Linked DNA regions of Homo sapiens: region 2 is linked to region 1. Evidence: fine-mapped expression QTL. Tissue or cell type: whole blood. Region 1 holds a variant in brackets; the other region holds the start of a gene. All regions are shown on one strand. Distances are from middle to middle.

What was found. PIP is the estimated chance that this variant, and not a neighbour inherited with it, causes the effect.
Region 2: TMPRSS13 starts here. The variant in region 1 is fine-mapped to the expression of TMPRSS13 in whole blood (INTERVAL, PIP above 0.99).

The regions. Positions count from the first base shown.
Region 1 is chr11:117,992,123-117,994,622 of GRCh38, forward strand. It overlaps IL10RA (interleukin 10 receptor subunit alpha), which reads left to right. Exons shown (of 7, transcript NM_001558.4): 4 at 1,119-1,288; 5 at 1,877-2,027. Among named protein-coding and RNA genes, the nearest start is that of IL10RA, 7.0 kb to the left of the region's middle. RefSeq lists an enhancer at 2,459-2,500. The variant T/C (reference allele first, on the strand shown) is at 992.
Region 2 is chr11:117,928,134-117,930,747 of GRCh38, forward strand. TMPRSS13 (transmembrane serine protease 13) reads right to left here and starts at 1,269. Exons shown (of 13, transcript NM_001077263.3): 1 at 1,154-1,269. The coding sequence starts at 1,174.

The DNA.
Region 1 (2,500 bases):
CCATATCTTGGCTGTTATGAATAATACTGCAATGAACGGGGGATACAGGTATCTCTTCAATACACTAATTTCAATATCTTTCGATATATACCCAGTAGTGGGAATTGCTGGATCACATGGTAGCTCTATTTTTAGATTTTCGAGGAACATCCATACTGTTTTCCATAATGGCTGAGAAATTCACCACCAGCGACATGCAAGGGTTTCCCTTTTCACCACATCCTTGCCAATGCTTGTTACTTCCATCTTTTGGATAATAGCCAATCTAACAGGTGTGGAGTGGTATCTCATTGTGGTTTTAATTTGCATTTCTCTGATGATTAGAGATGTTGACCATTTTTTCATGTATCTGTTGGTCATTTGTATGTCTTCTTTTAACTGTCTATTCAAGTCCTTTACCCATTTTAAAAACAGGTTTATTTGTTTTCTTGTTATTAAGTAGTATGAGTTCCTTGTATATTTTGGATATGAACCCCTTATTCAATGAACATTTGTAAATATTTTCCACCCATTCATAGATTGTGTCTTCACTCTAGTGGTTGTTTCTTTTGCTGTGCAGAAGCTCTTTAGTGTGATGCAATCCCATTTGTCTATTTTTGCTTTTGTTGCCTGTGCTTTAGGGATCGTATCCAAGAAATCTTTGCCCAGACCAAAGTCTTAGAACTTTGCCCCAGGTTTTCTTCTGGTGGTTTTTATAGTTTCAGGTGTTACATTTGTCTTTAATCCATTTTGTGTTGATTGTTGCGTAAGAGGTGAGACAAAGATCTATTTTCATTGTTCTGTTTGTGAATATCCAGTTTTCCCAACACCATTTGTTGAAGAGACTGTTCTTTTCCCATTGTGTGTTCTTGGCCCCTTTGTTGAAAATCAATTGTGGGTTTATTTCTGGGCTGTCCATCATATTCCATTGGTTGATGCATCTGATTTTAGGGTATATGTATTTTTAATGTGCTCCCCAAGAAGTCCTTACATTCTGCTGCATTGACAAACC[T/C]GTGGCCAAGTTTTAGGCCTAGGTTCTAATTAAGCTTAATTCTGGAGGCAAAGTCTCGGCGGGGACACCCAGGCCCTCCTCAGCCCTCAAGTCTCATGGTATTCCCCCCCACCCCAACTCCATTTAGTGACTCTGACAGTTGGCAGTGTGAACCTAGAGATCCACAATGGCTTCATCCTCGGGAAGATTCAGCTACCCAGGCCCAAGATGGCCCCCGCAAATGACACATATGAAAGCATCTTCAGTCACTTCCGAGAGTATGAGATTGCCATTCGCAAGGTGCCGGGAAACTTCACGGTATGGGGTTCCCCAAGGCCCCAGGGCCAGAACTCCCTTGGCTTCCCTGTCCCCTGGGCTGGAAGCACCCTTGTGTGCCATTGGGAACTTTGCTTATGGACTAAAGGGAGGGTCTGGGATGGTGGGTGGGCAGAGGAGGGAGTAGAAACCACCTCAGCCCTCAGAGCTATGCTCTTGTGAGATGCTCCTCAAAGGAATTGCCTACTAGGGCAATTGGGCACCCCAGAGCCCTTGTAGATGAAGCAATAAGGCTCTGAGAGGCTGTGTAACCTACCAGAGGGCGCCCCTGTTATGGGAGAGCTGGCATCTGCAAAATCCACCCTCTCTCCTCTCCACCACTGTTGATTCCAGCCCCTTCTGGGAAGATCTTCAGCATCTATAAAACACCGCTTTTTCTTTTAAAATACAAAATAAAATTGTGGTCATTACAGAGATCATGTGCTGCATTGGTAATTGTGGGGTTTGTCATCTTAGACAAAGGATACTGAAGGGGGTTGGCTGAAATCACCTCTAAAGGCCCACCAGCTCTCAGTGTCCGTGTGCCATGAAATAAAAGGATTTTGTTAATTGCTATCATTTTTGTTTCAGTTCACACACAAGAAAGTAAAACATGAAAACTTCAGCCTCCTAACCTCTGGAGAAGTGGGAGAGTTCTGTGTCCAGGTGAAACCATCTGTCGCTTCCCGAAGTAACAAGGGGATGTGGTCTAAAGAGGAGTGCATCTCCCTCACCAGGCAGTGTGAGTCAGCTGGGCTGCTCTCAGCATGGGGAGGGAGACTGGGAGGGCCTGGTGCAATCCAAAACGCGTGCACCTGGGATGCTGGTGCCAGCCACTGTGTTAGGTGCTGCTTCACATAGCTCTGCATCCTTAATAGGAGAGAGGTCCTACTGTCCTCATTTTAGAGATGAGGGAACTGAGGCTCAGTATTAGCAACTTCCTAGGGTTGCACAGCTAGGACTTGGTGGCAGAACCAGGTCTCTTGGATCTAGGGTCCTCCCACTGGAGCACAGCGGTGTTTCCCAACAACATCCCCCTCCCCCGGGGCCATCTTCAGTGAGCTGTGCTAGTTCCTGTTGTTACAGTCTTCTGCTGTTCTTCCTCAGAGCCAGGGATACAAAGGGCTTCTCCTTACTTCCCCTACTCTGCTCTGCTCCTCGCCAGAGCTGCTAAAGTCAGCAAATACTGCTCCAGGCTGTCAGTCAGGTGCCGGG
Region 2 (2,614 bases), 64 kb before region 1:
GAGGATGCCCCATGGCTGTGACTAAGGGTTCACCTTCTGCATGCCCTTGTGTACCCCCCTTACTGCTCAACAGTAAGAGGCTCTGATAACCCCCCAAGGCCTAGGGCCAAGTGACTTTGGTGAGGTAGAGACATGAACGAAGGAGCCCAGAGCAGAGGGCAAGGGAGGCAGCCTGGGAAAGAAAAGTCAAGAGGGGGCTGGAAGAATGGTGGGAAAAAAATGATGGTAAAGTTTGCAGAAACACATTGGGGGTGCAGAATGGACCACAAGCCAACTATAAGCCAAAACATAGGATGAGCTGATCTTTCCCAAACCCAGTGCTAGCCCATTCTTCCCAGAGTCCCAGGCTCTACCATGTCGGTAAGGTACAGAGAATTTGGAGGGGGCAGAAAACAAGACCTAAAGGAGAAATGAGAGCACAAAAGGGATTTCCTGGAGGAAAAGAAAGTGGAGGCACAGCAGAACAAGATCTTTGGAAGCCTTCATGTGTGTATGACTGGCTTTCCCACAGAGGACAGGCCAGCTGCTTTCTCCTACCCCAAGAGCAGCAGAAGAAAGGAAGTTGAGTGGTAGCAGGACTTGTGGTTAAACATCAAGAAGCACTTCCCAAGCATGAAAGTTATTAAGTCCAAAAAGAAGTGACCAACGGAGGTTGAAACATCCCCTTGAAAATCTTGAATGCACCCAGAAAGTCACAGTTTTCTGGGAAGGTTTAGGAGTGTAGTGAGGGGTTTAGACAAGATGCCCCTGAATTGCAGTTAGAATGCTTTTGATTTTCCAACCAGCAAAAATGAGATTAAAGTAGATTAGCCTGGATTCCCAATCGGCAAAGTTGGTGCTGTAACACTATGGATGCCCGGCAGGAGTGCTCACAGACCACAGAGCAGGAAACCCACGACTCAGCCACATAGCCCTGGGGTGCTCACCAGCCAGACCCCAAATCCCAGCAGCTTCTCCTCCCAGGGGCTTTTTCTAGAACCACGTTAAAAGGAGACCAAGAGATCTTGATCGTAAGTAGCTTCAAACTAGAAGAGGCACAGCCAGTTTCCCCCAAACCTGAAACACAGAGGTAGCTGTCCCACCTGTCTCCCAGCCTCAGCCCTGCTTCCTCAGCGCTGGGAGAATCTGGCCCGAGGCCTGAGGTCACACTCACCCCGTGGCTGTCCCTCTCCATGGTCTCTGAGGGGAAGAGTCCTCCAGGCTTAGCTGATGTCGAGGAGAAGATCCATCTTGGTCCCTGGCTTCTCAGGCATGTAGGGTAAAGGAGTTGGAGGGCCAAGGGCCAGCCCCCACCAAATGGGGCGGGGAAGCCGGTTGGGACGTGTGAAGTAATCCCCAGTATAAACAACACAGAACTAGCCAGACCTGTTCCTCTGCCCCTCATCGAGGCCATCCCAGTTACTCAGCGAATACCAAATTCCAAATACCGGGAACCTGAAGCTGCCTTTACTCATGAAACTGCCCCCACAGAAGCAGAGGAGTGTTCTGAGCTACTTCTTCAGAGGGGCCCTGAGAGAAAGGGCAGAGCCTTGAGAGGATGGTCTTGGTCCTGTTGACCTGAGCCCCTGAAACAGATGCTCCAGAGCCTTCTGAGGGATGACCCTATCCCCACAGGGGACGTTCCAGGCCAGGGGCAGAGCCCCACCTATGGCAGGACAGTGGGAACCTTCATCTCCAAGGACCAGGTGTCCAAATCCCAAATCAGGGCACATGGTCTCTGGGCGCATGGTCTGGCAATTGCTTTCTCCTGAACTCTGTTTGTTTTTATGAAACTCTTAACAAAGAAATGAAAATCAAATGACCTTTAATTATGCACATCATGAATTGCCCTCTATTGAAAACAATAAAGTGCCAGAAGCAACACATCAAAGTCAATGAAATAAAACATAACTATCTGAATGGAAACTGTTCCAAGAAACATTGGGCTGACTCGTGATCCCAAACCTATACCCTATTCTGATCCTCAGAGTCAAAAGAAGTAAAGGAAGGGCTATTGCAAAAGGAGTCCTTAGCACCTCCGGCTAAGTTCCAGCTGAGCTGCTGCTGAGAACTGCAAAAAAAAAAAAAAGAAAAAGGAGTTCCTGTTGAGGTTTGGGAAGAACTTTCTTGAGCATTCAGAGGCACCAAGATTTTTAGAGTTTGAAAGAAGCTCATGGATCTTTAGTGGTTCACTCTTTTCATTTTACAGACTGCGAGACAGAGGGCCAGAGAGGCTAAGGAATGTGCTCAAGTCACACAGCAAACAACAGCAGCAGCAATAATCTTAAGATGCCAAGAATCCTGCGAAACACTTCACACGCATCCTTCACGTGTTCATTCAACAAATATGTATTGAGTGCCTGGCATTGCTTTAGGTGCTGGGGACACAGGAACAAAATAGGCAAAGCCTCCTGCCCTGTGGCTCTAGTATTTGCGGGTTGGGGGGAAAAAGCAGACAAAAATCAATAAATCAGTTACACAGCCTCCTAGAAAGTGAAAAGTGCCGTTCACAAAAACAAAGCAGCGAAAGGATCCAGAAGGTAGGGGAGGCAGAGTCCTGGCAGTTGGGAACAGGATGGTCAGAGAGGGCTCTCTGTGGTGACATATTTGAGCAAAAACTGAAAGGAAGTGACTA